Homo sapiens: one gene and its partners. The protein of the gene in region 2 purifies or fractionates together with the protein of the main gene of each other region. This does not show direct contact. Each region holds a gene or a part of one and is shown on either strand. Other genes may lie near its edges. The genes, in order: TRA2A, OVOL2, TRIP11, TMOD3, SIPA1L1, NRBF2 and IPO9.

Region 1 (3,500 bases), on a different chromosome or scaffold from region 2:
AATAATAACCCACTGTTAATACTGCTAACTGTCCTCAATAATTCCCTACTTGAACCAGATCACCAATTCTCTATTAACTAAGTAATCATGCAAATTCATCTACAACTTGATCATACAGACACTGGAACATAAACCATACATTTACTTAACCTAGGACCCATTCATTCTTCCAGATTCTTTTAATTCTACTTCACTCTTGCTTTCTACTTCTCTTCATTCTTCATTGAGTTTTTCATTTTTCATACTTCGTGTATTCTTCCCCAATTCAAACAATTCAAAATAGCCTTAAAAAAATATTCAAGTGCTTCTATCTGACCAATCTTCTGTTCAATTTTTTCCCCCATTCAATTTTAATTTTCTGATCTTTAATACTTTTCATTAGCCTTCTTTTATCTTGATTTATCTTCCACATTCTTGGAAAAAACTCTTCAATTTCTTCACGAACATTAACCTTAATGGAAAAAGAACATTTAGTATATTTAAGCACGTGGGGATTATAAAACTCTGCTGGAGTTCAGAATGTTATCTACCAAATGGAAAAGCCAGCAGGTAAAGTGCAAGTAACTAGTTTATTTAAAAAAAAAAAAAAAAAACAATTTTATAGTCTTTAAAATTGTTCAAAACTCTAGTTTCTAACAAAGAGAATTTACTAAATTTCTCTAAATGCTTTTTAAACCATACTCTTCACCCTCCTCCCATGTTTCATTCTAGTTCCTAAAATGTGAGCAATTTTAATATAATTCAAATATAAATCTAACAACTATAATTTCCCCCCACCTAAGTGTTAAATTTTCACTACTTTATAATCTGAAGATTCTTAAAAATAAGCTTTCACTAAGTCATGCTAAGAAATCAAGATATAGTTAGAGCAAGGCATCCCAGGCTGAAATATTTGTACACACCTATCTAAACTCACCCATAGCACATGTCAAGGTTCAAATAAGTCAAAAAGAAAAAAATCAGTAAAATTACACCTTCTCCCAACTTTGACTACTATCTTTGCTCATTCTGACTTAAAATATGTTCTGAAGACAAACATACCGAAAAAACTAATAAGCATGAAATTCTTAAAATTTCCCCATTAGCTTATTAATTCCTGATATACACATTTTTGCAACCAGATCACTTTAAAATGCTCTATTATCCACGACATACCACAATGTGCAAGAAGGTACAAAATTTATATCATAGTCTTTATCTTTGATTCCATCTCTTTAGAATTATGTTCAGTTTTTACATAATTTATGCATTTATGTATACTGGTACTCCCTTCAGTGACTATATTCTATATCCAAAAAGTGATGGGTTTCTGAAAAAATTGGGTGTAAATCAAAGCATTCCAAATAAAATAACTTACTGATCATAAGCTTGTTTTTTTTAACTGCACAGATATGAGGCACTTATGATCAAAACAGGATGGACAGCTTGGTTTCTGTGTCCAGTTAAGCCTTGATTATCAGTGTAAATAATTATCTCAATTTCACAGAAGTAATTTCACACCAATTTATTTATGCCTTAAGACTATCACACAACTCAAACAGCTTTCTGAAAACTTTTCCTTTGCTTCAAGTTTAATGTCAAGACTTATTTATCAAGAACTGTACAAATGCCACCTGGTCATTTTCTTTCAGATAAAAACAAAACTGAAATACACAGCTACCTTTCAGCTCAATACCAACCTTTCCCATTTAGCTACCTACAAGTCTTTCACTGCATCTCAGATACTCTAAACCACTCAACAGATGTCTGGAGCAGGCATAGCAATCTGGGCTTTTTCATTCACTGAAACTATGAAAGCAGCATATTCAGTATCTTATAAAAAAAGGCATGGCTAATTTGCTTGTAATTTAAGTTTCACAGACTGGTTCATTAATCAAACTCATAAGAGTATCTTCCCCTCTTCTCTTTTGGCTTTCCTTTCCACAAAACAGACCCTGTGACATAACATTCATTTATGCTACTGTTGAATAGCAATAGCTGGATTATTATCTACGAACGCTGCTACAGTCCTTCTCAAACATACACAGGAGGCTTTGCTCTGTAAAACACTACAATTCTTTAATTTTACTAGGATGGAAATAAAAACCTTTTATTAAAGTAAACAAGATAATTCAGTAACATCTTAAAATTCCAATTTTAAATCCCAGTTTTGGAGTAGCAACAAAGCATTATGGTATGATAGAATGTCTTTTTAAGAGATGTTAGCTTATTTATTTTAAGAAGGAGGAGTCTCATTCTGTCACCCAGGCTGGAGTGTAATGGTGCGATCTAGGCTCACTGCAACCTCCACCTCCTGGGTTCAAGTGATTCTCCTGCCTCAGCCTCCTGAGCAGCTGGGATTACAGGCATGCACCACCTTGCCTGGCTAATTTTTGTATTTTTAATAGAGATGGGGTTTTCCCATGTTGGCCAGGCTGGTCTCAAACTCCTGACCTCTAGTGATCTGCCCGCCTCAGCCTCCCAAAGTGCTGGGATTACAGGTGTGAGCCACCGCGCCCGGCCAACATCAGATTTATTTTAAAAGAAGCTTTGCTTTTTATTATCAAAGGTGTCACAAATACCTAACCTCCTTTGTTGTCTGCCCTTCTTTCTTTTTATCTCAGAGGAAATCTCAGTCTGCACAAATTTCTTCATGGAAACATCTAAGCTAAAAACAGTCCTCTTAGCTGTCTCTAACTCCTAGCTACAAAGTTGTCACTATGATTTTAACTATTTTTTTTTTTTTTGAGATGGAGTCTTGCTCTGTAGCTCAGGCTGGAGTACAGTGGCACCTGATCTCAGCTCACTGCAACCTCCGCCTCCCGGATTCAAGCGATTCTCCTGCCTTAGCCTCCTGAGTAGCTCAGCTTACAGGTGCACGCCATCACACCCAGCTAATTTTTGTGTTTTTAGTAGAGATAGGGTTTCCCTATGTTGGCCAGGCTGGTCTCCATCTCCTGACTCCTTGATCTGCCCGCCTTGGCCTCCCAAAGCGCTGGGATTACAGGTGTGAGCCACCACACCCAGCTTCATTTTAACTTTCAAAAACAACTTACAAACTTATATTAACAAATCAGTAACTATTAGTAAACTTAACTGGAAGAATAAACTGCCAAGTATATAATTATTTAGAAATAAAGTAACATTTCTCAAAAGCTGTTACCAAATAAATGTCACTTTCACTGAACTCTGCATTAGGAATCAGGCTATAAGAAGTCCTTTATATAAAGAGGACAAATGCTAGGCTAATCCTTTTCTCTCTGACTCGTCTTCATTATGAAATAATTTCAACTTTTTCTCAAAGAAATTCATAAAACTATCCACAATTTGGAAAATGAATTGAAATTGCAAACAAAAAAGATTGCTGGGAATGGGTGGTATCTGCCCTGTTTCACTAGACTACTTGTTCTTAAAGCTGTCCAGTCAAGGAATCCTACCATTTCCTCAGTAATCTGGCTCCTGCATCCAATAACCATTAAAAATACACTGCCCGGTTTAAATGGGCAGATTAATAACTCAAC
Region 2 (4,027 bases):
AAAACCGCTGTGTTGATTCCCGGGCCCTGTAGGCTGGGAGCGCGGAGGGTCAGGTTACAGACAGGTGAGGCTGGCTGTTGGGTGAGCCTTGGGCTCCAGGGCATCCCTGACCAGACGCGCCCCCGCAGCACCCGGCAGCTGGCACACGTCTGACGACCTCCTGGAGGAGGGCGACCGCAGCGACACAAGAGGCTGTGCCGGTTGTCCTGGGCGCACCCGAACAAGGCCTTGGGAAGGGCAGCGCGCCCCGCAACGTGAGCACAACTGCTTTACAAACTTGGCATATTTTACCAACTCCCCCTCCTTCTCTCCCTCTCCCCTCCAGGCATAAAGGTTGATAGGAACAAACAGATATAATAATAAATGCAAAGCTTTCCTACCTCCCCGGTAGGGGCGGCTAGAAGATGTAGCCAATGTTCACTATGCTAGCTTCCTGGAAAGGTATTTCCCAGTCTCAGAATTTGGGGATCGGGTGGTTAGGAGAGGCAACGGTGGGAGTGGGCGAGGATTGGGGGCTTGTTTTGAAGCTGCATTTGCATAATATGCTCCTGGCTTTTGTTTCTATTGTGTGTTTACTTGGGGTGAGGGGGCTCTCGGGGGGTGCAACGTCTTGTGAGGAGAAGCTGCTTTGGCGGGGCAAGGCTTGTTTTTCTTAGATTGTATGATACTAGTCAGAAAAATAACGTGGTCTAAAGATGCCGAATTTTTAAATTTATTTTTACTGCTTATGGGGGGGGGGTGTTGTAGCTGATGGAAAGCTTAAGCCCCTAAGCCCCCACCCCCCATTATTAATAATCAGAATCCTTGGAAGTCTCCCGCCGCCTCCCCCTTCTGACCGCCCAGATTTCATCAAGCCCCAGGAAGGCTCCACAAGGTCCAGGGGAACTGAGCCATTTTCTGGCTCGTCGAAGACAAATCCACCGGGCGGGGGAGGGGGGCAACTCGTGGGAGGCCCCAACTCACCGGAGGGGTGCCCTGGGAGGCGAACCTGGGGTTTACCTCGAAGAGCTCGCCTCGAGGTGCAGGTGATGGGGGAATGGGGCGGGGGTTGATTAAAAAATGTTCTTCCTTTCTTAAAAAGAGGAGGGGGAAGAACAGACTTTAAATTCTTTTGCAAACATTCATGCCTAAGGAAGGGCTGGAACAGGCAGCCCCGGCCGCCGGAACCGGTCGGACAGGTAGCGAGCTTGTTGACACCGTTATGTTGCAGGGCGCATGCTCAGTCCCAAGTTTCCTGGTGCCTTTTCTATTCCACCTTATGAAACTTTTTCCCCGGCGTGGTCTCACTCGCGATTTAAGGCATAGGTGTCGCCGAGCCGGGAGGCTGGGAGTCGCCAGGCGTGCGGGGGAGAGGCCTGGGCCGCGCCGCGGCGGGGGGTGGAGGAAGAGGGCAGGCGAGGCGGGAAGGTGGGCTCTGGCCGCCGGGAGCCGGGGACGGAGCCGCCGCCGTTGCCCCTAGCGGGGAGCAGCCGGGAGGAGGGGGCCGCAGTCGGGAGAGGGGACCCCACCATGCCCAAAGTCTTCCTGGTGAAGAGGAGGAGCCTGGGGGTCTCGGTCCGCAGCTGGGATGAGCTCCCGGATGAGAAAAGGGCAGACACCTACATCCCAGGTGAGCGCGCGCGGGGGCCGGGCCTGGGCGCTGGGCTCCCGGGGTGGGGGAAGGGGTGGCGGGTCTTCTCTGCTCATCGGCAGGGGCGGGCTCCCCACCTCATCCCCCTCTTCCGGGGGGCACGCGGGGGTCTTCTAGGCGGGTTAGGGCAGGCAATGAGGGACTGGGATGCCCCAGACTCTAGGCGCCCCCTTCCCCGTAGTGGGAGCCTCTAATTGCCCGGCGGCGGGACCGTTGGCTGCAGCGCGGGCCAAGGTGGCCCAGGAAAGGGATTGAAAGCCAGCAGAGGCTACCCCCAATCTCACGTCCTCATGGGGGTGCACAAAGGCTCGCCAACCCTTCTGGGGCTAGCTGGGGAGAGGTCAGATCCGCCTCCCCCGCCCTGAGAGGAAACTTGGCGCGCGGGGTCCTCCGCCGCTCGTGGCCGCCCGGTTCCTCGTGGGCGCCTTGGCTGGGACCGGAAAGAGGCTCCGAGCACCCCAAGCTAGCTCTGTGGGCCGATTCGGGGCTTACTGGCCTCCCCCGCGACGTTGCCCACTTGGCGAGGTGCCCAGGTCCGGGGCGGGGCGGCGGCAGCACCGCCCGCAGGTCAAACTGCCGCGGGCGTGCGGGTTGACGCCGAGTGTGTGTGTCGGGGCGCGGCCCCTCCCTCCACAGTGGGCCTAGGCCGCCTGCTCCACGACCCCCCCGAGGACTGCCGCAGCGACGGCGGCAGCAGCAGCGGCAGCGGCAGCAGCAGCGCGGGGGAGCCTGGAGGAGCAGAGAGCAGCTCGTCCCCGCACGCCCCCGAGAGCGAAACCCCCGAGCCCGGCGACGCCGAGGGCCCCGATGGACACCTGGCGACCAAGCAGCGCCCGGTCGCCAGATCGAAAATCAAGGTACTGTGTCGACTCTGCCCCCGCCGCCACCTGCACCACGCCCTGGCGTCGGGCTCCCGAGGCCGGCGCCCCTCCCTGCCGCGCCCGCCTGCGCAACCCGGCACCCGCGCCCCGAGCGCGCCCGCCGCGCCGCTCCTGCACCTGCCCCTGGGCGGCGGCCAGGGCGCCTCGGCGCGTCCTCCCGCCCGCAGGGTAGCTGCTGCGCAGGGGCGGCCGGTTCCCGGAGTGGGCTCCGTCCTCCCGGTGGCCCCGCCTGATGCCGAGTGCTGCCTCTGGAACTGCCGAAAAGGCACAGGCATCACTGCCTTCCGCCAGCAGCCCGTTCTGTGCGCTAGGCCTGTAGAATAACCAAGGCCGTCGGAGTTCCTGAGGTTGGAAAGGAAGCCTCAGCGCTCTCAGAAATTCCACCCTCTGGGACGCAGTTCCTGGCGCCGCGATTCTGAGAGTTCACCCCCCATGCTTATGTTCTGGACCTGGGCGGCAGCTTGACACATAGTGGGCCTCTCCCAACATGAACCGGTTCCCAGTGTCTGTCAGACAGGAGGCTTGTGCACGGCACTTTAGATCTGTCATCTTTCCAATCTTGAATTAAATTGATGGGTAAAAGGGTTCAACTACAGATTTCTCGAGCGCCCCTACCCCAGTGGATTGGAGTGTTTCCTCCCATCTATGGTCGCGCCTCGGGGCCCCCTCGAACATTCTGGACGCCCACCTGCGCTTTCGGGCAGAACTTCCATGATGGTCTGCTCAAAGGTATCCGCTACCCACCAAGGTTTAGGAATCCCATTCCACTGACTCAGCCAGCTGGAGCTAGGAGGTGGTGGTTTATGATCACTTGGCCCCTCTTTCTAGCCTGGTGGGCCGCAGTGCTACACTGTGCACCCCCTAGACCCCCGGTGCAGGTGGTAATTCCAGGGCTCTCCGGTGCCCTCCTGCCACCCAGACCGGGAGTAGAGGGCGGTGGGGAGGGAGAGCCTGGGCTTTGCTGTGGATTGAGAAAGGACCCCTCATTTTCCTGGGAGAGGTCCCCTATGCACATTGCGTATTCCCAGGGTTTGACTCCGGGGTGGGCTGAGGCGCATTTGGTTTTGAACTGAGGTTTGAGGCTTCAGCTGGGATCCAAAGGAAAGACCTCTTTAAAGAAGAAGCTGCCGAAACCGTGCGGGCCGGCAGCTTAGCGGTAAGTGTGAGGGTGAGGTTCAAAGTCAGCTGGCCTGAGGCTCTTCCGGGCCAGGTGGGGTTAAGTGGGAGGGAAAAATTTGCCTGAGGCTGGTAGCTCTGCCCTTCGGGAGATTCTACAAAGTGCCCCACTTGCATATTTATCACCAGGCTGGAAGGACAATTGCAACGTTGTTTTGGGAGCCTCTGCAGCTAGTTTGCCCCTCTGTCCCCCAATTGCCCAGATTCCCCTGGAGAGAAAGTGACAGATTCTCATCCAGTCTCTTAACAAATATTTTAGGCAAACTCTTCTGCCTCAGGCACACAGGGCCGTTGGAATCCTGGATTAAAGGAAGACGTAAACCAATCTTATTTCCTAGAT
Region 3 (3,500 bases), on a different chromosome or scaffold from region 2:
ACTGCTTCTGCTCTTCTAAACTAGATGACAAAACGTCCTTAGTTTCTTTATGGTCAGTATCCATTTGTTCAATATTCTTTTTGAGTTCTGCTATTTCCATGTCTTTCTTTTGATTGAGTTTAATTAAATGCTCATGTTCCAGCTGTAAGGCAGAGGTATTCAAATTACGTGCATTTGACAGTTCTTCAATGGTTTTCTCATACTTGTTTGCTTCTTCCAACAGCCTCTTTTTAGCCCAACACAATTCTGCCTCTATCTCTCCTTTTTCCATTTTTAGAGTCTCCACAATAGTGTTTTTTTCCAGAGAAAGCTGATTGTTACCAGCAAGACATTCTTCTAACTGATGCCTCACATCTTCACATGCTAAAACTAACTTTTCATTTTCCATTTTGACATCAAAAGCAACTTTCTTTAAATTTTCATTGAGCTGTTCTAATTCTGAAAGATTTTGCTTTAAGTTTCTAACTTCAGCTTCTCTTTCTTTAAGTAAGGTATCCTTAAAATTACTATTAGAGTCTTGATTTAGAGACTGCATTAACTCATTCCTTATTCTAGAAAGCTCCTCCTCATTTTGTCTAATATGCTCCTTAAGTTCTAAATTCTCCTTCTGGATGCTTACATTACTTTCTTGTGATTTATTTAGCTGATCTACTAAATTTTCTACTTTGTCCTCAAGTTTCTGCTTGGTTAAATGTAAATCATTTAGGGCCACTTCACTTTGAATTAGCTTTTCTTTCTGTACATCTAACTCTTTAGTAATGTCCATTTTATCATCTTCAAGTTGATGAACTCTCTTTTTTTCATCATTTAGATCTTGTTTCAGTTTACTGATGATGCTATCTCCTTCATTTTGTTGTTTTGATAGCTGATCTTTTATCAAAATCATGTGCTGAAAGAAAAATTTGCATGGTGACTTTACAACATGTTCTCATTTTAGTACTCAAAGAAAATTTTATAAAATCTCATACATAATAGAAAATAATCCTCAAATATTTCTAATCCTTCTTAAAAACATTGTTTTTCTATCAAAAACACCCACTACAAAATTACTTATTATTATTTTACAGCAAACCCATCTTGTCTTTTTTGTTTTTTGAGACGGAGTTTCGCTCTTGTTGCCCAGGCTGGAGTGCAATGGCACAATCTCGGCTCGGCGCAATCTCGGCTCACCGCAACCTCCGCCTCCACCTCTTGAACCTCCCAGGTTCAAGCAATTCTCCTGCCTCAACCTCCCGAGTAGCTGGGATTACAGGCATGCGCCACCACACCCGGCTAATTTTGTATTTTTAGTAGAGATGGGGTTTCTCCATGTTGGTCAGGCTGGTCTCAAACTTCCAACCTCGGGTGATCTGCCTGCCTCAGCCTCCCAAAGTGTTGGGATTACAGGCATGAGCCACTGTGCCTGGCCCCATCTTGTCATTTCTTAAAGCATTTTAGGGATAAGAATTTAAAACCAAAGATGGTAAATAGTATTTTTTTTTTTTTTGAGACAGAGTCGCTCTGTTGCCCAGGCTGGAGTGCAGTGGCATGATCTCGGCTCACTGTAACCTCTGCCTCCTGGGTTCAAGCAATTCTCTGCCTCAGCCTCCCGAGTAGCTGGGATTACAGGCACCTGCCACCACGGCCGGCTAATTTTTTGTATTTTTAGTAGAGACGGGGTTTCACCATCTTGACCAGGCTGGTCTTGAACTCCTGACCTCGTGATCCACCCGTCTCTGCCTCCCAAAGTGCTAGGATGACAGGCATGAGCCACTGCGCCCGGCATGTTGTTTATTTTTAACTCTACACTAGAGTAAGAGTCAACGAACTATAGCCATTGGCCAACTCAGGGATGCTGCCTGTTTTGTAAATAAAATTTTGTTGAAACATGGTCACACTCATTTGTTGGTATCACAACAACAGAGTTGAGTAGACTGAGACAATATGGCCTACAAGGCCAATGATATTTACTATCTAGCACTTTACCAAAAAGGTTTGTCAATCTCTATGAACTAAAATATTAATTAAATCACACCCACCATTTCTGTGTTTAGTTTACTTAGTAGAATGTGCTGCCTTACTGTATTTAATACAGTGTTACCTTTGTAGCTTCTTGATTCTGTCTGTCCAATTCTTCTATCTCAGCTATCAGTGTTTCCTTTTCACTAATACTCTGATTGAGTTCTTGTTCCTTTGCCTCCAAATTAAGTCTTAAGTCATGTAATTCTGAATCCAAACTTATGTCTCTTGTAGCTGTACTTTTAATTACTTCATATTCATTGTTCAATTTTAAAAGTGACATCTGAAGTTCTTCCTGAAATGATAAAAGGAAAAAAGCAACACATACTTTCAATTGGAGACACCAAAAGATTAAAAACATACATAGAAGCAAAACTTGGGATTCTATTTAAGTGCTCTATATTGGAAATAATATTGAACAATACCTCAATAATTGTATGTGAAATTCAACAAACCACATCCTTCATTCATGTGCAATTTTACTTGTAGCTTCAAGCAAAACATTTCTATAACCCTAGACAGATGCAGCGACTGTAAGTTTGTCCTCTAGCACCAAGTTCTTCTTTATAAAAAACGTTCCCATTTGAGAGCCTCTCCTATCCTGCTCCACCGTGGCTACCCTTTATCCATCCCCTGGCCCCACCTACCATACATACATACTTTCCAAAATGTCCGCAAGTCTTTCTGCCTTCCTCACTTCCATTCTCTAACATCCAGTCATCAACAGCCTCAGACTAAATAAAAATATAAAAAATCAACACTCCTTCACCCAAATGTTTAGCCTCTCTAATTAGAAAATAAAAGGTTTCTTTTCTCTTACTAAAGGAATTTCCCTTATTACTTTTGCTTCTGTTAGAACATGGAACTTTTTCTTGACCCTAGAAAGAATCCTCCTTCCTTCCTTTACCTTTTAACCAGACTAGGTTCCCCTCTGTCACACCTGACATTCCTAAAGATAGTATATATACATTTTATAGTCTACTACCTGGTATTTAATGCTTTCTCCAAAATCTCAGAAGTGGGACAGTTCTCTATGCTTCAACATTATTTCAGTCTCTAGTTATGATGTTTGTAATAAACTATATATTAAAGCCTTCTTTCATTGACAGATTTTTAAAAATCAAACCCATATGGAATCTACTTTAAATAGAGTATTGAACCAGGCATGATGGCATTTATCTATAGTCCCAGGAGGCTACTTAGGTGGCTGAGGCAGAAGGATTACTTGAGCCAAGGAGTTCAAGGCTGTAGTGCACTATGATCATGCCATGATCAGCCACAGCACTCTAACCTGGGCAATACAGCAAGACTCTCTCTCTCTAAAAAATAAAATTAAAAAAATAAGAATCTCAAATTCCTTCAAAGAAACAGCCTAATATAAACCTTATAAAAGAAACTCAACATTGCTATGGAGAGTTGGTTGAAAAAACAGAGATCCGATAAAAGCTATACTAGAGTATCTGTATCACAATTCTTATTTCCTTCTAATTCAAAAATTTATT
Region 4 (3,500 bases), on a different chromosome or scaffold from region 2:
GAGTTTTGCTGCTAAAATCTAGAGGAAGGCAGGAAGGAAAAAAGCCAGATAGTAGTCCATTTTGAACCCGGTCAGTCTTTCCATGTCAATTGCTCTTACTCTTTCGTGCTCATTCATTAGTTTGTGAGCCTTTTGTGGTCTTTGACTTGAATGACCACAAAAAAGTAATGTTTTCCCCAGAAAATGTATCCATAAAAGTTTACCTATTATAGGTGTTCGTAGACCTCCACACACATGCATCAGAGCACAGTGATCTCTTTAAAGGGCTCAAGGATTTCAGGTCCTCTGTCGTTCACATCTGAAGCATCATATTCCTGTGTGGGTAGCTGAGGTAAAGATTAGGGAGTGAGAGTGAGGGAGGGCAGTAAATTTTGGAGCCTCTGTCTCAGTAGCTCTTCTGTGTACCTTTACCTCCTCTCCCTCTCTGCTCCTTATTCCTACCCTCTTTCCTATTCCTTCTTTCTCGCAGGAAGTTCTCCCCACTTTCCCACTGCAGAGTACTCCTCGTGGGAGGAAGAGGTAATGTGCCCTCCCATCACCTTATTCTTCTCATTTAGGCTATATTTCTTTAAGTCTGTGATTCTTACTGCCTTTATGCCAATTATCAGTCAAATTTCAGAGAAATGATGAGATGCTAGATTTTATCATACTATTATTTTATCTTAAATTTTGCCAAAAACAAATGGCATCATCAACTTGTGCTATCAAATATATTTGAGTGGTAAAAATATCTTGTAATATACTAAGACAATGAAAATATTCATTTTTGAAGACTGATACATGGCAAACAAATTAAATGTTGAATATGTTTGGTATTTATATTCAGTAAAATTTTATTTGGGTGCTTTAAATATGTGTCAAGGCCAAGCGCAGTGGCTCCTGCCTGTAATCCCAGCACTTTGGGAGGCCAAGGCAGGCAGAGCACTTGAGGCCAGGAGTTCAAGACCAACCTGGCCAACATGACGAAACCCATCTCTACTAAAAATACAAAAATTAGCCAGGCATGGTGACACACGCCTGTATTCCCAGCTACTTGGGAGGCTGAGGCAGGAGAGTTGCTTGAACGTGGGAGGAGGAGGTCGCAGTGAGCCAAGATCTTGCTACTGCACTCCAGCCTGGGTGGTAGAGTAAGACTCCATCTCAAAAAAAAAAAAAAAAAAAAAAAAAAAAATTAAATAAATAAATATGTGTCAACACATAAAGGATCTTTTCGGAATTGTGGGGATGGAACTTTTAAATCTGTCCCCTTGAATAAATATGCGTGTATGAGAGAGAGAGAAAGAGATGTTACCAAGTCAATTATCTGCATGCACTGTAATAGTATCAACTCCAGGCTGAGCACAGTGGCTCCTGCCTGTAATCCCAGCACTTTGGGAGGCTGAGGCGGGTTGATACGAGGTCAGGAGATAGAGACCATCCTGGCTAACATGGTGAAACCCCGTCTCTACTAAAAATACAAAAAATTAGCTGGGCGTGGTGGCAGGCACCTGTAGTCCCAGCTACTCAGGAGGCTGAGGCAGGAGAATGGCTTGAACCCGGGAGGCGGAGCTTGCAGTGAGCCGAGATCGTGCCACTGCACTCCGGCCTGGGCGAAAGTGCGAGACTCCGTCTCAAAAAAAAAAAAATGGTATCAAATCCTGCTCTTTTCATTTATCACTGCAGATGTGGTCAAAGGTGAAAAGATTCTTCCGGTATTTGATGAGCCACCAAATCCAACCAATGTAGAAGAGAGTTTGAAGAGAACTAAAGAAAACGATGCTCATCTTGTTGAAGTTAATTTGAATAATATAAAGGTAAGTGTGCTAATCAGAGTGGTTTTGTATTGCTTTGAGTTAGTTGAACCTAGGATGAGAGCTGGGCAGTTGATAAAATAGTCTAATTCTTTCTACTTTAACGTAAAGTTTTTGCTCTTACCAGTATGCTAACATAGGTTTCTTCATATTTTAGATATTGAAGTATTATGGTATAGTATTTTCTAACTTGCTTTTTGAAGAATTTATCATCTAAAAATGTAAACCCTACAAACTGTCAGAATAAATCTCAGGTTTTCTAAATACTGCCCACTTCTAAGAACATTTAGCCTCTTGGGTCTTGCTTTTTTAAAATTCGGTTCCTTAGCCAGGTATGGTGGTGCATGCCTGTAATCCCAGCTACTTGGGAGACTGAGGCTGGAGGATGGCTTGAGCCCAAAAGTTTGAGACCAGCCTGGGCAACATAGTGAGACCTGCCACTGTCCCATCTCAAAAAATAAAATAAAACCTGTTTTTTTGAGGTAAAATTTAAATATGGTAAAATTCTCCCTTTTAGTGTCCAGTTCTATGAATTTTGACAGGTGCATACAATTTTGTACAACCACCATTACACTCAAGATATAGAATATATCTGTCACCGCAAAAGTTCTCTCATACCCCTTTGTAGTCATTCTCTGACCCCCAGCTCTAGCCCCTGACAACCACTGACCTATTTTCTTTCCCTATTATTTTGCCTTCTCCAGAATGTCATATAAATTGAATCCTATAGTATGTAGCCTTTTGGGTCTGGCTTCTTAGCATAATACATTTGAGATTGATTCATGGTGAGTGTGTCAGATACGCTGCAGTTTGTTTATCTGTTCATCAGTTGGAAGACATATGGGTTCCTTCCAGTTTGGGATGTTTATTAATACAGCCACTATATACTTTTCACACACAGGTTTTTGTGTGAACATGTTTTAAATTCTCTTGAGTAAACACCTAGGAATAGGCTTTCTGGGATCTTATTTTGAGTTTTAAACAATGCAACTCTTCCTTGGAGTAAGGAAAGAAGAAATTAGGAGGACATGGGGTAATTAATTACCAAAAAGTAAACTCAAATTATCTAGATATTAGCCATTGTGTAATGGCTTCATTATAAATTCCTCATTTTAAAACTTGATTTTTTTGAAGTCGAGGACAAGTGGAGGAGAGCATCTGGAAATCTTGAGCCTAGGGAAGGAAGCTTCTGTGCTCCTCTAGGGAGTGATCCTTCCTGTGAGTAGAGGAAGGAAAGCCTCAGAGAAAGCTTATATTCATAGTTGATTACTAACTTTTTTTTTTTTTTTTTTGAGACAGAGTCTTGCTCTGTTGCCCAGGCTGGAGTGCAGTGGTGCGATCTTGGCTCACTGCAACCTCTGCCCTGCCCCAGGTTCAAGCAATTCTTGTGTCTCAGCCTCCTGAATACCTGGGATTACAGGCATCCACCACCACACCTGGCTAATTTTTGTATTTTTAGTAGAGATGGGGTTTCACCATGTTGGCCAGGCTGGTTTTGAACTCCTGACCTCAAGTGATTCGCCCACCTTGGCCTCCCAAACTGCTGGGATTACAGGTGTGAGCCACTGCGCCCGGCCTATTTTTATTTTTTTTAATTTGGTCCCTGTGTATCCCTTTCTCTAAATAAACAGTAATCATCTGAAAATAACCAGGCTAGGGGGAATTGAAGTCTCAAGATACTACTGAGAGAAACCAGCATCTTCAGTATTT
Region 5 (3,500 bases), on a different chromosome or scaffold from region 2:
GCTCTGTTTCACTTTTTTTTCTTTAGGAAGGGTTTGCTTTAAGATATTCAGCTTTGTTTTTCAAGAAATAGTTATTTCTTGTGAAAATAAGAAAAATAAAAATCAGCAACCTCAGGAGGCAAATTATATTTCTGGTGGAATGGAAAAGCTACATGCTCAGAAGATGCCATGGGATGGCCTATCTGTTGGTTTTACAAGTGTATTTTTAAAAGACTACCTAGTTCACTTCATGACAAAGAACAGTGGCAACCAACACTCCATTTTCTAACTGGAGGAGAGAATTCAGAGACTTCCATATGGCTTAATTATACCAATATGTATTAGGAAGGCAATTTTTCTTGTCTATTGTGAACTGCCTGACTTGAACGCTGACAGCTGTATAATTTTAATTTGATCGTGTTATTTTTCTCTTAAAGTCAAGCAAAAGATGCTGAAATCCAGGTTTGCTAGATTTTTCTAAGTGGAATCCTGTAAGAATCCAGAAATATTTAATATCTTTCACTTTAAAATTGGCAACTTCTCATCTGCTATTTCACTCAAATTGTTATTCCTTCTCAGAAAATATCTGTGATTTTATTTTAAATAAGGAGAGCAAAATGTTTAGCAGGGGGTGTGATTTTAAGCACCCTCCATCTACTTGCCCCTTAAACTAACTGGCTTTCTGCAGATCCATTTATTAATTGATAGAACTTTAGACAAACATACACTGAAAACCTACCAATAATTAGAAACAGCTATAATGAACTGTGAGGAAAAGAACTGAATCCTTACCATATAATTTTCAATGATTCACTGTGGTAGGGAGGTAAATGATACAGGCACTGAAATCAGCTTCGCATAGTCAGAAATAGAATCCTTACAGAAGATGAGGAAGATGATACCCTGGAATGCTCTTTTCAAATAAATGATTTTGTTTTGGATAAATCAAACTGGCAAGGTTTCTACAAGGTTAAAAGCTCATTAATTTAGATGCCACAAATTCTGAACTCTTGATAATAAGGCCTGGTTTAAGCTAAACAGAATATTTAGAAAAAAAGCCTTTCTAGAATCTCAGTTTGCTGCATGTAGTTACTTAAGATATATTAATTATAAACGGTTCTTGGTATTTTTAAAAGCAGATTCCAAAGGGCCTCTGCTTGGCTGTATGTATATTAGCCTAGTTGGCAATTCTGTGTCTTCTTGGAAATAATACATGCTTTAAAATCATAGCCATGCTTTATTTACCCAGCATTGTTGAGGACTGGAATGTTCTACTCAGCAGGGTTATCTAGATGACAGACAGACAGAGCTAGAGGCTAAAACAGTGATGGAAAGTTATCACAGGAAGGGAACTTAACAGAACTCAATGTTCCTCAAATTCTTTCAGTAAAATCTTTGGGTTTCATTTGAAAATTCACCTCGATTTTACATTCTACTGAAAAATATTTGTGTTCATTTTCATATAAAAATATCTTCTCACTCCAAAATCTTTGGGTACACTGAGCGACCAGGAAGGTGTCTTGTTTGTATTCTGTGGTTTGACATCTTCATGAACCTCCGGTTGAGCAGCTGGTACAAATTCTTCACTTCTCCAGGAACAGATACAGAGAAGTAAAAGGATTTACCCAGATTTGTTAGAGAGAGCCAGGATTGGAATGTAAGCTTCTGGACAGCCAAGAGAGTGCTCCACGACAAGCCCACACTTACTCCCTCTGAGGAAGTGCTTTCAAACCTCCTACTCCTGAGGTGCCTGCTAAAAGGGACCATTCACATGGGTCACATGGCCTAAGAGATGATGAGGCTATTTCTACTCGATATGGGCCATGTAACATTGGTTGGCATCAAAGAGCTTGAATGAAATAACAAGTGTTGATACCCAAAGCCAACTTCAAGCTGACACATGAAAATGTTCCAAAGACTTTTTTTTTTTTTGAGACGGAGTCTCACTCTGTTGCCCAGGCTGGAGTGCAGTGGCGCGATCTCGGCTCACTGCAACCTCTGCCTCCTGGGTTCAAGCAATTCTCCTGCCTCAGCCTCCCCAGAAGCTGGAACTACAGGGGCCCGCCATCTCGCCTGGCTAATTTTTTGTATTTTTAGTAGAGACAGGGTTTCACTGTGTTAGCCAGGATGGTCTCGATCTCCTGACTTCATGATCCGCCTGCCTCAGCCTTCCAAATTGCTGGGATTACAGGCATGAGCCAACACGCCCGGCCTGTTTCAAAGACTTCTGAACAGTTTAGTGGATAAAAATTGAGAAATATAAGACATTTGAACTTTGGAAGCACAATGGAAAAACAGCAATAATCAACAATCCCCAGCCCAAAATTTAAAAGGAAGGTGATACAGAAAACATCAAATGGGAGAAGGAAGTTTCCTCTTCTTGGAGCCTGAATCAGATTACTGGCCAGGGCAGCTTCCAAGAAAGCAGATCTGGGCAAAGGACAGGAAAGATCAAACACGTGCCAATCATTCTCTCGATTTCTAATAGTATTGATCCACCAGTCACTGAGTACCTACTATGTGCTAGGCACTTTGCCTTTGCTGAGGATCAAGGCTGAAGATGTCCCGGGCTCAGCCCTCCAGAAACTCAAAGTCTGGTGGGAGCCACAGCCAGTGATTTGAGTCTCCTACTTGCGAAGTACAGGGTGCTACTGGTAGCACTTAGGAAAGGCACTTTAGTCCTGGGAGGTCCAGGGAGCCTTCTCAGAAAAAAGAAAAGCAGGAATTCATCAGATGGAGGGAAAGGGGAATGTGTGAGAGGAGCAGCATGTGCAGAGCGGAGGGGCAGAGCATGCTGTTCTGGGGAGTGGTGAGTAGCTCCAAAGGAGTGAGGTAGGCATGGGGTGCAGACTGGTAGATGAGACTGAGAGACAGGAGGCCAAACCTGAAGCCCCCATGCAGTAAGCTATGCTTGCAAGTCTGAACTTTCCTCTAAATGCTTTTAAGCACAATAAATGACATAATCAGATTCTTGTCTTAGAAAGGTCAGCTGCAGTGGACAATAGGGATGCTGATTAATTGAGGCTTGAAATAGACCTTCTGAAAGAAATTTCTATCACTTGACCTACTTGGATTTTTCTTCTTCTCAGCTGAAGCTTGCAAATTCTTTTTTTTTTTTTTTTTTTTTTACAGAGAGGAAAGAGGATGAACACAGACATTTAATGGACATGCATCACGCTTCCTCCCTGCCTATGCTAGACATTTTACTTAATAGGATTTTAAGTGGATGTCAAGCAACTTCCCACTGCACTGTTTAACAATTTGGTCTAATTCCAAGTGCTTTTTGTACTATATCATACAGATTCCTTTCAACAGTTATTACATTTTAATTACCGGGTATGGAAACCTCTCTGAGAGGAGTAACACATATTTCTACCTTCCTAAACATACCTACTGACCACAGTTTAATATTTGTTTTGAACAATCAGGGTCCTTGTTATGACTACTTATTACTATTTTAGTTTTAAAATGAATAACAACTCTTTTATTTCATCAAATAGTGTGTCAATGTTCCAATTTAC
Region 6 (3,500 bases), on a different chromosome or scaffold from region 2:
CATCAGCATGTTACTACAGGCATGCATGTAGAGATGAGATATTCAGAAGGGAAGCTAAAAAAAAGACCACAGGAAAAATCTCCCACATTTTAGGTAACAAAAGTCTTATAGTAAGTTTTGCATTATCAGCATGTTAGAAAACAGAAGCTCAGTGAAAATGAATTGGTTGGAATTGAATTGAATTACTATTTTTAGAACCTGAAATGGCCAACTATTTGAAACCCAAACTCCTTTTTATAATAACTAAGATAAAATGGCAGACTTGTTACAATCAGCTCCTGTTTTTAGGGATCTTTGGGCTCAGAGAGCTGTATCCAGGAACTGTTTACCACATTTATGCCATCTTCATGATTTAGAAAGAAGATTGGATTAGCAGGAGCTGGGAAATCCAACACACTTACTTGAAAAATAATCAAAGCTGATATTCTGGTGGGTCAGCAGTATCAGTCTTGCATATGAAAAGCAACACACATTATTACTATTGTGACTTTCTGCTCTTCAGTTTTACACTGAGTACTTAATAAGAATACTCACCTGCAGCCTTTTTGTGACAAGAAATAGCCTCTTCGTATTTGCCTGCAGCTAATAAACGGTCTGCTCGTCTGCTCTGTTGATGAGCCTAGAAGACAAACATCCCTAAGTTCCTCTGGATCATAAAATAAAACATGATTTCTTTCAAAAAGCAACTACCTTTTAAGAAGATAAATAATACTGTTTTGTTGCCACATATCAAATCACTATTACAGCTCTATCTGTAGCTGGGGAAATGTAATGGGTAGAGCCTAGAACTGCAGCATCTGAAAGGAACTGGCAACTTCTTTCACTTCTACCATAAGCCCTCTCAAGGTTAACACCAGGCACTTAACTCCTTCAGTGACTCACATTCTTCCACTCTTTGGAGATAAACCAAGAGTTACAATCATAGATTGTTATTCAAAATGTCTATTTTCTTGATTTTTAACAAGCTCCTTTCAAAACAAGAGCTATTTTGTAGATACTTTCACTAATCTGTATAGTCTAAAAACTATAATCAGGAAATCACTCATCATGTAGTAAAATCCAAGCTTCTCTTCTATCATCTCATTCTTTCAACATTAAAGTTACTATTTGTTTTTAAAATAAAAAATTTGGACATTGCAGTTGATGAATTCATGATACCAACATCTAATATTACAAAGATTGTTTTAAAGATATCTCATCAAAAGAACAAAGTCAAAAAAATCAGAAGTTCTAACAGCAAATAATGTAATTGAAGGAAAACTTATTAAATAAGCAGTCACTGGCCTCCTTACACTTTAATAATTTCAAAAGAGCTTTAAGTCCAGGCACAGTGGCTCATGGCTGTAATCCCAGCACTTTGGGAGGCTGAGGCAGGCGGATCATCTGAGGTCAGGAGTTCAAGACCAGCCTGGCCAACATGGTGAAACCCCATCTCTACTAGAAATACAAAAATTAGCTGGGCGCAGTGGCTCACGCCTGTAATCCCAACACTTTGGGAGGCCGAGGCGGGCAGATCATGAGGTCAGGAGATCGAGACCATCCTGGCTAACAGGGTGAAACACCGTCTCTGCGGGCGCCTGTAATCCCAGCTACTCAGGAGGCTGAGGCAGGAGAACTGCTTGAACCTGGGAGGCAGAGGTTGCAATGAGGCAAGATCATGCCATTGCTCTCCAGCCTGGGTGAAAACAGTGAAACTCCATCTCAAAAAAAAAAAAAAAAAAAAAAAGCTTTAATATACATTATTTCAGCTGCTTTAACTACGACTTTGTTAATGTGTTTTCCTCTCTTACATAAGGAGGCCCAAAAGACTGATGGGGAGGTCGTGTAACTTACATAAGATTATACATTTAACTAGCAAGGAGAAAGGCAGAGATAATCAGCTAAAGTTTTCTACCTCATGTAACGATTTTCCTCAGTAACAAACACACACGATTTAGCAAAGCTTCACAGCTTCACAAAAAAGCAAAAAGCATTGTACACCCATATTCATAACAGCATTATTCACAACAGCCAAAAGGTGAAAGCAATCCAGATGTCCATCAACAGATAGATGGATAAATGCAGTATACACACACAATGGAAAGGTACTGTCTTTAAAAGTAAGGTAATTCTGGCCGGGCGCGGTGGCTCACGCCTGTAATCCTAGCACTTTTGGAGGCCGAGGCAGGCAAATCACAAGGTCAGGAGATCGAGACCATCTTGGCTAACACGGTGAAACCCCGTCTCTACTAAAAATACAAAAAAAATTAGCCAGGCGTGGTGGGGGGCACCTGTTGTCCCAGCTACTCAGGAGGCTGAGGCAGGAGAATAGCGTGAACCCGGAAGGCAGAGCTTGCAGTGAGCCGAGATCGCGCCACTCCACTCCAGCCTGGGTGACAGAGCGAGACTGTGTCTCAAAAAAAAAAAAAAAGGGAAGATAATTCTGACACATACTACAACATGGATGAACTGTGAGGACATTAGACTGAATAAAATAAGCCAGTCATAAAAGGACAAATACTATACAAATCGACTTATTGGGTATCTAAAGTAGTCAAATTCTTAAAAACAGGAAAGTTGAATGGTGGAACAACTCATCATTGAACAGGGGAGGGGGAAATGGGGAGTAGGTATTCAAACGGCATAGTTTCAGTTTTGCAAGATGAAAAAATTCTGGACATTTGTTGCACAACCATGCGAATATACTTAACACTACTAAACTGTACACTTAAAAATAATTAAGAAGGTAAACTTCACGTGTTTTTTACATCACTTAAAAAAGGTAAAAAGTGGCTGGGTGCTGTGGCTCATGCCTATAATCCCAGCACTTTAGGAGGCCAAAGCAGGCAGATCACTCGAGCTCAAGAGTTTGAGACAAGCCTGGGCAATATGGTGAAAACCCATCTCTACAAAAAATACAAAAATTAGCCGGGTGTGGCGCTCGCACCTGTAGTAGTAGTCCCAGCTACTGAGGAGGCTGAGGTAGGACAATCACTTGAGCCTGGGTAATGGAGGCTGCAGTGACCTGTGATCGCACCACTGCACTCCAGTCCGGGCAACAGAGTGAGATCTTGTCTCAAAAAAAAAAAAAAAAAAAAATCGGGCATGGTGGCTCATGCCTGTGATCCCAACACTTGCGGAGGCCAAGGCGGGTGGATCATCTGAGGTCAGGAGTTTGAGACCAGTCTGGCTAACATGGTGAAACCCCGTCTCTACAAAAATTAGCCCAGCAGGATGGTGGGTGCCTGTAATCCCAGCTACTCGGGAGGCTGAAGCAAGAGAATCGCCGCTTCAACCCGGGAGGCAGAGGTTGCAGTGAGCCGAGATCGCACCATTACACTTCAGCCTGGGCAACACAGTGAGACTCGGTCCCAAAAAAAAAACAAATCTGTTCTGTCAGTTAGCTGAAAAATGATTTGTCTTGGATGCTTTTTAAAGACATGTCCCTTTGATGCTGCATAAAAGTACTTCACAGAATCACGTTTGCAACTGAGATTATAAATATTCTGGGCATGTTTACA
Region 7 (3,500 bases), on a different chromosome or scaffold from region 2:
GTTCCATGATTTAAGTACTGAGAGAGAAAGCAAAGGCAGTGTTTTCGGATGGTGATCTGGCTCCAAGGATGAGAAAAGGCATGGCATGGCAGAAGCAAGTAGCAGAAAATGCCACATAGACAACAATGATTCTCAGCTACTGCTCTGTATTGCGGAAGAAATCGGTCTAATAGTAAAGGGCTACCTTTTTTTTTTTTTTAAACCAAGTCTCGCTCTGTCACCCAAGGTGGAATACAGTGGTGTGATCTCAGTTCTCTGCAACCTCTGCCTCCTGGTTCAAGTGATTCTCCTGCCTCAGCCTCTTGAGTAGCTGGGACTACAGGCTCCTGCTACCACACCCAGCTAATTTTTATATTTTTAGTAGAGATGGGGTTTCGCCAAGTTGGCCAGGCTGGTCTTGAACTCCTGACCTCAGGTGAGTCACCTGCCTTAGCCTCCCAAAGTGCTGGGATTAGAGGCATGAGCCATCGCGCCTGGCCTACTTTTTTCTTTTTAAGACAGATGGCTAACATGGGTATGAGAATGGAACATTTTAATTATTTGGATATTGGCCAAAAATAAAGTTTGAGAAAAATGACAGGAAACAAACAGGAAGAATGTGCCTGATACAGAATGCCTGAGGGCATTCTGGACTTAACAATGGGAGCAGTACTCGATAATTCTCAAGGTACAGCAACCAGATTTGGATTCCATTCAAATGCCAAAAACAACCATGAATGGGAACGCCAATTTGGGAAGAAACATAAACATCACGGAAGAATTATGAACTAGGCAATATTAGATTGTCATTAGGTGAAGCTTGAATCGGCCTCTGGGCTGTTTTAGAGGTTCGGATGAGTTCAAGCTGTAGGGTGCAAACAATTTTCACTCAAAGGACACAAGAATATCTGGCCTACCAGTCTAAGTGAACAATATAACCAAGTTAATGACAGGTTTAAAGAGTTTCCTTTATATATATATATATATATATATATATTATACTTTGAGTTCTAGGGTACATGTACACAATGTGCAGGTTACATATGTATACATGTGCCATGTTGGTGTGCTGCACCCATTAACTTGTCACTTACATCAGGTATATCTCCTAATGCTGATCCCTCCCCCAACCCCACAACAGGTTTAAAGAGTTTCTAGAATCCTGGCACGTGCTGAAACATACCTGAGAGGTTGAGGTCTGCAAGGATGACATTGGTCAGGAACCCATGCATGTCAAAATGAATCCTGCCATTTTTCACACTGTCAGTGATGATGGCCTTCACTGAGCCTAGGGCAAGCATGCATGCCTCATGGATCTTCCACCTGTGAAAGGATACTACAGCCTAGTAAAACATACTAAACTGCCAAAAGAGATAAATATTTGAGGAAACAAGATTCAGAAAAGGGCACTCCAGCACAATCTCTTCCAAAAGAGTCATTTACCTTAAGCCCTTCCATTCTAACCTATAGCTGAAAAGAGTGAAATTTTAATAATAAGAGATTAAAATCTGTTATTAAATTAAAACCAGATTTTCAAATTAAGATAAAAATAAATCCATCCTTTCAAGACTTTTTAAGAAGGGGTAAACAAAAGCATCTTAACCAATTAGCGGCTCACTCTTACCAGTGCTCAGTGCCACTGTTTTTGGTTTGCTCAGCTTCTTGTAAATGTCGAGTGGCTGCAGCAGCCAGGGCTGCTGCACTTTCATTCTGGAAATCTGTGGCCACAGCCTATAGAGAGAGAAGAGCTAATAAATCTGTTTGTGCCCATTAAATGCATTTTAATTGTAAACCGCTTCAGTCATGACTGTTAGAAGTGATTGGTTCAAGCTCTTTCACATACATGTGCAAACCCCTAATTGTATTAAAAATGTTATACCAGTAGGTCAGGGTCTCTAATGAAATTAAAGTAGTATCTGTATTTCGGTAGTGCCTAGGCATTGTAAGGCTAACCAGTTGGCTCCTTTGGCTATATTCAGCAGAGCATAAGTGAGCAATAATAGATCTAGCTTTGGATGACAATGGACCAAATATTTGCTCTCTTGGAGACTGATGATAGAAAAATAAGTCTAATCTACTAATTGGAACTGAATATAATCTTTCACAGCTCCTTAGAAATACTAAATGATAATGAGAAGTGATTCATCAACAGAGAACAAATCTCCTACCCAACAAGAAGCAAGTGGCAGTTTCTTCTTAGTATTTCAGCCTAGAGACAACTCTATGCTCTAGTCAGAAGAGGCAAAGAAAACATGAGCAGGTATTTGGATGTTAATCTTTCAGCAATCTGTTTTGTTTTGCTAGGTTTGCCAACCTTTTGTCTGTGCTATAGATTCTTGTTGAAGAGTGAATTAAACTGAAATGGCTTTTTTTTTTTTTTTTGAGACCAAGTTTCACTCTTGTCGCCCAGGCTGGAGCGCAATGGTGTAATCTTGGCTCACCACAACCTCCGCCTCCCGGGTTCAAGCAATTCTCCTGCGTCAGCCTCCCGAGTAGCTGGGATTACAGGCATGCGCCATCACGCCCGGCTAATTTTGTATGTTTAGTAGAGATGGGGTTTCTCCATGTTGGTCAGGCTAGTCTTGAACTCTGGACCTCAGGTGATCTGCCCGCCTCGGCCTCCCCAAGTGCTGGGATTACAGGTGTGAGTCACCACGCCCAGCCATAAACTGAAATGTTCTTGATTCAACTACCCTTACTCCATGGAACACTTTATCCTCTATACAATTCTCCCCCGCACCCCGGCCCTATGGTCTGCACAATTCTTTTATCTAATATTTAGTTTTAAGTTAGAACCAGTAGCAATGATTTTAGAATTTCTGAGTCTCGAATTTCATTTCAGAAACTCTCTTGCATCCCCAATAAAGTCTGAGATAAAGCCACCCAACAACACTGCTCACCTTGGATTAGTTGTCTACAAAAAAGAAGAAATGCTCAAGTGACTGATAGAAATTATGTGGCTGAAGTATCAAGGTAAACTTACCAGCAACAAGTCTTGAGCTGCTATTCTAACAGTATAGGAGAATGTATCATCATCTTCATCTTCTACAAATTGTTGGGGGTTGGCTGTCCATACTTTAATCTGAAAAGATCAAGTTATGTCTTTGTGATGCTGCCAATCTGATTCATAGCTTTTCATCAACAGATACAGGAAGATTTCAACCTATTATCCTGAAAAAACTCTAGCCTTTTGCTGGATGCAATGGCTCACAACTGTAATCCTGACACTTTGGGAGGCCAAGGTGGGAGGACTGCTTGAGCCCAGGAGTTTGAGACCAGCCTGGGCAACATAGTGAGACCCCACCTCTACAAAAAATAAAAAAGTCAACTGGGCATGGTGGCATATGCCTGTGGTCTCAGCTACTCGGGAGGCTGAGGCAGGAGGATGGCTTGAGCCTGGGAGGTCAAGGCTGCCGTGAGCTTTGTCTACACCACTGCACTCCAGCCTGAGCAAAACAGCAAGACCCTGTCCCAAAAAGCAAACAAAACAAAACAACAACAACAACAAAAACTGAAACAAA

What was found.
Region 1: the proteins of OVOL2 (region 2) and TRA2A purify together in Homo sapiens (affinity purification with mass spectrometry, with the first as the bait; one large-scale study listed by BioGRID). This does not show direct contact.
Region 3: the proteins of OVOL2 (region 2) and TRIP11 purify together in Homo sapiens (affinity purification with mass spectrometry, with the first as the bait; one large-scale study listed by BioGRID). This does not show direct contact.
Region 4: the proteins of OVOL2 (region 2) and TMOD3 purify together in Homo sapiens (affinity purification with mass spectrometry, with the first as the bait; one large-scale study listed by BioGRID). This does not show direct contact.
Region 5: the proteins of OVOL2 (region 2) and SIPA1L1 purify together in Homo sapiens (affinity purification with mass spectrometry, with the first as the bait; one large-scale study listed by BioGRID). This does not show direct contact.
Region 6: the proteins of OVOL2 (region 2) and NRBF2 purify together in Homo sapiens (affinity purification with mass spectrometry, with the first as the bait; one large-scale study listed by BioGRID). This does not show direct contact.
Region 7: the proteins of OVOL2 (region 2) and IPO9 purify together in Homo sapiens (affinity purification with mass spectrometry, with the first as the bait; one large-scale study listed by BioGRID). This does not show direct contact.

Annotation. Positions count from the first base shown.
Region 1 is NC_000007.14:23,521,982-23,525,481, forward strand, and holds part of TRA2A (transformer-2 protein homolog alpha), read right to left. Parts: intron 575-3,500; exon of another isoform or gene 1-574. UniProt on the Homo sapiens protein: Sequence-specific RNA-binding protein which participates in the control of pre-mRNA splicing.
Region 2 is NC_000020.11:18,055,117-18,059,143, reverse strand, and holds the start of OVOL2 (transcription factor Ovo-like 2), read left to right. Parts: upstream 1-1,227; 5' UTR 1,228-1,509; coding exon 1,510-1,609; intron 1,610-2,266; coding exon 2,267-2,487; intron 2,488-4,027. UniProt on the Homo sapiens protein: Zinc-finger transcription repressor factor. Plays a critical role in maintaining the identity of epithelial lineages by suppressing epithelial-to mesenchymal transition (EMT) mainly through the repression of ZEB1, an EMT inducer.
Region 3 is NC_000014.9:92,005,560-92,009,059, forward strand, and holds part of TRIP11 (thyroid receptor-interacting protein 11), read right to left. Parts: intron 2,294-3,500; coding exon 2,081-2,293; intron 890-2,080; coding exon 1-889.
Region 4 is NC_000015.10:51,892,153-51,895,652, forward strand, and holds part of TMOD3 (tropomodulin-3), read left to right. Parts: intron 1-1,662; coding exon 1,663-1,793; intron 1,794-3,500. UniProt on the Homo sapiens protein: Blocks the elongation and depolymerization of the actin filaments at the pointed end. The Tmod/TM complex contributes to the formation of the short actin protofilament, which in turn defines the geometry of the membrane skeleton.
Region 5 is NC_000014.9:71,666,476-71,669,975, reverse strand, and holds part of SIPA1L1 (signal-induced proliferation-associated 1-like protein 1), read right to left. Parts: intron 1-3,500.
Region 6 is NC_000010.11:63,143,328-63,146,827, reverse strand, and holds part of NRBF2 (nuclear receptor-binding factor 2), read right to left. Parts: intron 620-3,500; coding exon 535-619; intron 1-534. UniProt on the Homo sapiens protein: May modulate transcriptional activation by target nuclear receptors. Can act as transcriptional activator (in vitro). Involved in starvation-induced autophagy probably by its association with PI3K complex I (PI3KC3-C1).
Region 7 is NC_000001.11:201,856,657-201,860,156, reverse strand, and holds part of IPO9 (importin-9), read right to left. Parts: intron 3,062-3,500; coding exon 2,963-3,061; intron 1,711-2,962; coding exon 1,604-1,710; intron 1,303-1,603; coding exon 1,163-1,302; intron 1-1,162. UniProt on the Homo sapiens protein: Nuclear transport receptor that mediates nuclear import of proteins, such as histones, proteasome and actin. Serves as receptor for nuclear localization signals (NLS) in cargo substrates.